Linked DNA regions of Homo sapiens: region 2 is linked to region 1. The links come from fine-mapping of genetic effects on gene expression. Tissue or cell type: gastroesophageal junction. Region 1 holds a variant in brackets; the other region holds the start of a gene. All regions are shown on one strand. Distances are between the middles of the regions.

Region 1 (4,356 bases):
CAAGCAAAATTGCTAGATCCAAAGTTGATATCAAAATAAAAATTGCATTTCCATATACAAGCAATAAATAAAAGAGAAATTTTGAAACCAGCCACCAATTTTAGCAGACAATTTAAAAAATTTAAGAATAAATCTAACCAAGGGTGAATAAAACCTCTACTCAGAAACCTAAATACATAATTGAAGGAAATTAAAGGCAACTAAACAGAAGGGTATTCCATGCTCTTGAATTTGAAGACCCACTATTATAAAACTATGAATTGCCTCCAGATTAATCTACAGATTCAATGCAATATCAATTGAAATCTCAGCTGCTATTTTTGTGGAAATAGACACAATGATTATTAAATTTATGTGAAAATGCAGAGTGAAGACCAGTTCAGATAATCTCAAAGAAGGAAAATAGAAAACAGTGGAGGAAAGACTTATTTTACTAGATACTAAATACCACTTACAAAGCTACAGAAATTAAAACAATGTGGAACTAGTACCAGATTAGACAAATTAGCCAATGAGACAGAAGATCCCCCACCACCACCTCACAAAGACCTACAAACATACAGCCACTTGATATATGATAATGGAGGCACTACAGAGCAGAAAGAGCAAAACATGTTATTTTCTATAGACTGTACTGAGACAATTGGTTTTCTCTATGGGGAAAAATGAATCTAACCCTAACTTATACCACATAAAAATAAATCCTAAGTGATAACTGAATGTGAGAAGTAGTGTGAACGTTGTATTAAAAGAGAAACAAGCTATACTAACAATAAAGGAAAAGCATAGTACATTTGATTACAATAAATTTTAAAACTTCTTTTCATCAAAAGATAAGAGTAAGAGTGTGAAATGGTAAACCAGATAGTGGTAGAGAATATTTATGATGCATATACTTGACAGAAGGCTATCACACATAATATTCCTACAAATCAATAAGAACACAGAAACCTAGTAGAAATCTAGTAGAAAAATGGCAAAGGGACTTAAAAGGGATTTATTACAAAGAAAAGCAAAATCACTAAAAACATCATATGAAAAGGTGTTCATTCTCTTTAGACATCAGAAAAATTCAAAATAAAACCACAAGAAAATACTCTTCCCACCTCACCAGGATGACTCAACTCGGAAGACTAAATATCAAGGGTAAGCCAGGCTGTGGAACAAGATTTAATAAAAAAACAAAACGCATCTATGTGCTAAGAGACAAATGCAAGAAAATTCATAGTGATATTATTCATAATAGTAAAAAACTGTAAACAACTCTAATGTCTATAAGAAGTATAATAAACTAATTGTGGCAACTTCATTTTATTTACTAGATAAACAAACTACATCTATATGGAGCAACATGAAAAAAATCTCATAAGCAACCTGAGAGAAATAAACCAAATAGAATATACATAAAGCATGAGTCCATTTATCTGAAGTTCAAAATCAAGTGATACTAGACAATACAGTTTAAGGATAAATTACTTGAAGGGTAAATGTATAAAGAACAGCAAGTAACGTGAGATACCTGGTATACAATCCTTTCCTACTTATCCACTGGTCATGTCACTAAAATTCTCATCATCATTTGTAAAATGAGTAATGTTATTTACCTCTCAAGATTGTTGTAACAGTAAAATGAGATACTGCATGTAAAACTCTGAGTATACAGCCTGGGGGTTTAATTGGTGGTTTCAGTCTCTGAGGGGGCCATTTGACTGCTATCCTTCATAGTTCTGCATCAACTGATGTTGGAAAAGAATCAAAATATGAGCATAATGACTCATAAATCTGATAAACATGGTTCAACCACACTAAAGCAGCATATTCCTAGCTCTTTGGGAAAGGGAGTTCCCAGCACCAAACTTAAAGTCCTTGGAGTTTTGTGAATGGGGAGAGAGAAAGTGCAGGCATAATACTTCGTTATTC[T/C]ACCTCTAATGAAGAAACAGTGGCCAAAAGATATCAGAATCTTTCCATTCCAACCATCAGATAAACCGATCCCCCTCCCATAGAGGAAGTGTTATATCATTGAAGCCCACCCTCATGGAAGGAGAAGGGTAGTTTCCCCTGAACACCTGATACATACTAAAGACTTACTGCTAAGATGATGATGAGGTTAATGATAATTTAAAAAATTAAAATAACATGTACCCATTCAATAAAAGACCTATAAGCTATAGCTCTTCAGTTTAATTCCAAAACAATCTTAGGAGCCAATTGGCAGAATATTTCACAAACACAAATGTTCTAATCATACCTTAAGAAAGAGCTTTGCACAATCGGTGTAAACAGTCATCTGGTGGTGAGAGTTCCAAGAAGAGGCCCTACTGAAAATAGCATCTTAACTCCCAGTCCAACAGCCTATTGCTGTGTGTGTGATTGCTTTGAGTTTGAAGATCACGGCACTAGAAAACTCTTGTTGAAAGGGTCACTAACAAGGTTCATTCTTTGCTGTACTCACTTCCACTTGAAAGTTTTGTTAGTATACTAAGAAATTAGCCATTAGAGTGTTTTAGAAAAAAAGGAGCCAAACCCAGGGGGGTGGTAAGCCTGAAGCTGAAAGCTGATGAAAGTAGAGAGTCGGAAAGTTTTGGAGCTTGGAAAGCTGCCTGTTGGGAAGTGTGAGGCCCAGGGGAGGACATCCTGCAGAGAATCCAGAGCAAAGGAGAAATGAAGGCGAACTTTATTTACTTCAGCGTTTGGCCAAGGGCTATTCCCACTTTGGGTTATCAGTTTTTAATGCCTTGATGTTAATAATGATGTAACTTTACATAGACAATAAATCCCCTATGAACCCAAGGAGGCAGAGCTTATGGCATCCCTGGCTTATAATGCACTGCTGGGAAATATATAGAACCCTTAAGACCAAATACCTAATCTTTCCCAGAGATGGGTAATGGAATAACTGACTGGGTTACAAATCTATTTATGGGACATTTTGAAACATACATAGTGGGTTTAAATCCAAAAGGCAAATATAAACAGTTACGATTGTGTGCGTTACATGTATTTTATTCAACCCATAGATTTGTAGGTACAAGAATGAAACAACAGCAACAAAGGAAAAAAAATCAGCAAACCAAAACAATAGTAGAATTTATTTATTTGCCTGGGAACAGGCATTGTGAAGAAATTCACTCAATAGTTCTCTAAGAGGAAAATGTCAGTGTTTTTTAAGTGCTAGCATATGGACAGGCATTCATGGCGCTTACACATCACGACATTAATTGAAACCAGTACTTTGGACAGAATAATGAGTCCCTACCTCTGTTCATAATTGGTTAAAATAAATCCCATTGTTTACTGGTCAGGAAAGGGTCTTCTGTTTGTTCCAGTGAAAATCTGGTGTGCTGTAGTAGCCCAACATTCACAGCCATTAATCAGCTTCTGCTGGTCAGAACCAGTTGCTTTGAAATGCAACATTGGTTTTGATATCTCATAGGAAAGCATGACTGTAAGTAGATAACTTTCCCTATACACAGGTAATTGTGCCTTTCTGCTCCTTTTAATTTTGTTAGGAGAAGCCCCAATCTAGATGGACATGTCTGCTCTATTTGTTATCCAAGACAGAATTCCCCCAAGTCCATCACGCACTGAAGAGTCTTTCATTGTACCAAGGCCAGAACTTCATATTTTCCCTTGTTCCTGTCACTGTTACACCCCCAGGGGCTGTTCTCCTTCCCAGGAACTTCACCCTGTTCCTACTGCCTGTCTGGAGTTAAATGGAGACAAGCATGATTAAAACTACCAGTAAGACAAGTTTAGAAAATGAACTTTTTCTTGGTTTCAAGAACATGTACAAATGCTTTTGATATAATAGTAAGTTAAAGAATAAGAAAAATTTACATGATGTGCTTATTTCACATTGCATGTCTGTATCAAAACATCTCATGTACCCCATAAGTATATACACCTACTAAGTACCCACAAAAATTAAAAATAAAAATAAGAAAAAAAATATCAATGGTATGGTGTCAACTACATGGTAAAAAGACTAGAAGGAATAAAGCCCTGTGGTTAACAAGGTAAACCATGGTCTCTTTGGGGTGGTAGAATAACATGTGACTTTCTTCCACTTTATCATACTCCCCAATCCTGTCCCTTCTTTTAAACAGTATGTTTAGTACTCTAATAACCAGGAAGAGAAAAAGAATCTGATCCAAAAGACTGAAGTCAATTCAGTGAAAATAGGTTGAAACATTATAATTCAGGATTTGGAATCTTATTTAATGATATACTACATAATAGTAAAAGTTAAAACAAAAGAAATTAACATTAATACTTATTTAACTTAAATACATTTATGTAGACTTATAAAGTTTTTTTCATATTTTTTCAAACATATGAAAAGAGGAATTTGCAATG
Region 2 (4,000 bases), 570 kb after region 1:
TTCAAGCTGTTTTATTTCTTAATAGAAAGGCTAGGTTTTCTCTGTTTCCTAGACCACAAATTCAGTAGTTACAGAACCTTGGCAAAAAATCAGCACTTGGTTTTTTCACTTTGCCACAGAGCACATATTTATTTATCTATTTATTTATTTATTTATTTTTTGAGACGGAGTCTTGCTCTGTTACCCAGGCTGGAGTGCAATGGCGCAATCTCAGCTCACTGCAAACTTCGCCTCCCGGGTTCAAGCAATTCTCCTACCTCACCCTCCCAAGTAGCTGGGATTACAGGCTCTCGCCACCACGTCCTGCTAATTTTTTTATTTTTAGTAGAGACGGGGTTTCACCATGTTGGCCAGGCTGGTCTTACACTCCTCACCTCGTGATCCGCCTGCCTTGGCCTCCCAAAGTGCTGGGATTACAAGCGTGAGCCACCGCGTCCAGCCCAGAGCACATATTGCAAGTAGCTGAATGGTGAATACAAATGAAAAGACTGTTTCACTCATTTCCCTCATTTAGGTTTATGATGAAAAAATAACCCATTGGCAGAGAGTTGTAGCTTAAGAGTTCACACTTTCGGATTTCTTCTGTCATTATAATCAACAGGCTGCTCAATTTTGTTTTCTTAAAATTATTTCTTACACCGTAAACCTTTGATAATTATAGTTGTCAGACAGCTATATAAAAATAATGAAGATAAATAACAAAATTGGGTTTCCTGGAAGCTGATCCAATAAGAATTGAAAAGTAGTTGTAAATTTCACTATGTCACCACTTTTCAATTGCGAAACTTAAATTTCATGGCCACATTCAGACCTACATTTATTTAAAATTACTCATTAAAAAGCAGGATATGTACAAACTTTCTCTGTCCTCCACCTCTGAACTTTAGGCCAGCATCTGAAAGCCCCTAATTCACCTGAATGCTCTCATTCACCATTTAAAATACAAAAGTTTGCATTTAATCACAGACCACCTAATTGTTGACATGGGTTTTAGCTTCTTTAAGGGTGACCACTTCTGCACTGTGGACTGAACCTACTGTACCCCATTCCACCACTTTTTCTTCTGAAACTGCTCACAATATCCCTGGACATTTCTACAACACTAGAATGAGCATATTTCAGTGTCTGCTCTTCAAATCCAAATGGCTGGGTTTTTTCCCTGTTTGTTCTTACTCTGCCCTTCAGTGGAAAATATTTAAATTTGAACATATAATACTGCCTATGTAACATCACAACAGATTATAGAATAAAAGGTTTGGATTTCTCCAGCTTCCTCTGCTCTCAGCTGTGCAGAAGACAGGGCAGAAATCAAGAACTGACAAATGTGCGCACTGGGAACTTCACCTACCACACCTAAGTTCAGACTCTTCTTATTCTTTTTCTCTTTTATTATTTTTATTTCCTCTATCCACCAGTTTTCTGAATCTATTCTATGGAAAAAAACAATTTATCAGACTCAAAAAATATTTACCAAACTTTAAAAGAATAAAGTATCAGAAAACACGAAGTTCCTACTTACACAACCACTTCCAACGGGCCTGCTTCCTTTCTCTTTGCTTTACTCTGGCAGCTCCACAAAGCCACAGCAGCACACTCTGATATTTATAGTCCTGTTGTTTACCTCACCCCTCAGGTATAGTCCAAAGTTCAATGTTCATTCTTGCAGTGACCTTGCAAGCAGAGCAAACCCCTGAGCTGATTGTTATCAACTTAAAAGAAAGTAGCAAGTGCTGCCATGCATAATATGGGGAAAACATTTTGACAATTACTAATTTATTCCCTATCCTTTTCAGTCACCCTAGAATCTAGGATTTAATGGTACAGTCGGGGGCGGGAGGAAGGGCTAAGGGTAAACAAGGCCTCCAAGTTGCCTTCTTTCCCAAACTATAACAGGGAAAAACATTTGCTGAGCCAGCGAATTATGCTGCTGCTTTAAAAAAAAAAAAAAAAGAGAGAGAGAAGCTTTTTTTTCCTTTTGTTTTGCTTCTTGCAGTGATGAGGTGCTAGCTTAGCCCACACAGTGTGACCTTTGTTAGAAAAGTCACCTGCTGTTACAAGTTACTCTGGTCTCCTGTTGTTACAGACTTACACGTCGATTGTGTTCTATGTTTATAACTTGAATTCATATGGGATTTCACAGGACCACTGCTCTTTTCTTGTTAATTTAAGGAAATAGAAAAATAGACTTCCTATCTGAGGGAAATCAGACCTCATTTTTATTGTCACTGAAGTCGTACTTCCTGGAAGACCTATGCATCCCCAGAATTTTTTGAGGATCGAATATAAAATCTTTACAAATGTGAATACCATAAAAATAAAAATTAAAGGTAGTAGTTGGACATGGAAAGAGTGTGGAAATTTCAAGATGTACAAATGAAATAGCTAATTCCTACTATTTCAGAAGAGGGTATTTTCTTTCTGGTAACGCTTGTAAGTTGGCATGCTCACTGTAGGTGAGGTAAGGAGCAATGTCAAATGATGTCATTCCTAGATAGCAATGGTTTTCGAGTAGGCCTTGCTTTTTTCATCAATTAATTTTTTTCCAAATAATCCCCCACTGATTGCTGTATGCTGAATACTGTTGTACAAGGTGCAGGAACTACAAAGAGACTCAGATGTTATCCTTCCTTTCAAGAAACTTCCTATCAAATTAGGAGGTTACCATTTGAAATCCAAGTTCTCTTTACTTGCCCTGAGCAGTTGTTACTTGCCTTTTGGGGTCCCATATCTCTTTGAGAATCCAGTTAAAATGCACATATACATAATCATTTTTTTAAAGAGTGTCATTAAAAAAATCTTTGTACAAAGCAGATATTCCTCCCTGTAGTTCATTTCCTTGACCAATTTAAGTAGTCATATTGAGGAAAGAGAGAGACCCTCTCATATTGTTTTATACTCAGTACCTGTTTTAAGGAAAAAAAAAAACAAGGATGTGAAATCAAAGACAGGCAGCCCGGTGCCAGGCCCAAACCAGGCCTGGGCCTGCCTGGCCTAAACCCAGTAGTTAAAAATCAATTCATAACTTCGAAACCGATGTTATTCATAGATTCCAGACATTGTACAGAAGAACACTGTGAAACTCCCTGCCCTGTTCTGTTTCTCTCTGACCACCGGTGCACGCAGCCCTTGTCATGTACCCCTTGCTTGCTCCAATCAATCACAACCCTTACATGTGAAATCTTTAGTATTGTGAGCCTTTAAAAGGGACAGAAATTGTGCACTCGGGGAGCTCGGATTTTAAGGCAGTGGCTTGCCCACGCTCCCAGCTGAATAAAGCCCTTCTTTCTACAACTCAGTGTCTGAAAGGTTTTGTCTGCAGCTCGTCCTGCTACATTTCTTGGTTCCCTGACCAGGAAACGAGGTAACTGATAGACATAGACGGCAGAGCTAACCCGTTAGGCGGCTTAGGCCTGTCCTGTGGAGCGTCCCTGCAGGGGACTCCAGTCAGCCTGAGTGACGCGATCCAAAGAACGCTCCCGGGTAGGAAATTGCCCCGGTGGAATGCCTTGCCAGAGCAGCGCATAGCAGGCCCCTGCAGAGGATTAACACGGTGGCTGAACACCGGAAAGAACTGGCACTTGGAGTCGCGACATCTGAAACTTGGTAAGACTAGTCTTTGGAACTTGCCCCACTCCATCTGAGTGGAAGTGTGGCCTGATCACCCACGGCGTGCCTGTATTGGCACTTTTGTTCTGGTTTTGACTTGGCTTGACTTGGTAAGACTAGTCTTTGGAACTTGCCCCACTCCATCTGAGTGGAAGTGTGGCCTGATCACCCACAGCGTGCCTGCATTGGCACTTTTGTTCTGGTTTTGACTTGGCTTGACTTGGTAAGACTAGTCTTTGGAACTTGCCCCACTCCATCTGAGTGGAAGTGTGGCCTGATCACCCACAGCGTGCCTGCATTGGCACTTTTGTTCTGGTTTTGACTTGACTTGAATTGCTGGATACTTTGGTTTTGATTTTGACTTGGCTTGAATTTTTTGGTACTCGGATTTTGA

Direction of the effects. Alleles are on the strand shown, and positions count from the first base shown. SD is a standard deviation of normalised expression in the study named.
For the expression in gastroesophageal junction of the gene that starts at base 1,576 in region 2, C is the low allele of the variant in region 1 and T is the other (small effect, 0.26 SD a copy in GTEx).

What was found. PIP is the estimated chance that this variant, and not a neighbour inherited with it, causes the effect.
Region 2: SELENOP starts here. The variant in region 1 is the best candidate, but not a certain one, in a credible set for the expression of SELENOP in gastroesophageal junction (GTEx, PIP 0.65).

The regions. Positions count from the first base shown.
Region 1 is chr5:42,240,710-42,245,065 of GRCh38, forward strand. No RefSeq gene overlaps it. Among named protein-coding and RNA genes, the nearest start is that of LINC02996, 68 kb to the left of the region's middle. The variant T/C (reference allele first, on the strand shown) is at 1,921.
Region 2 is chr5:42,810,317-42,814,316 of GRCh38, forward strand. SELENOP (selenoprotein P) reads right to left here and starts at 1,576. Exons shown (of 5, transcript NM_005410.4): 1 at 1,520-1,576. RefSeq lists an enhancer at 1,735-2,300.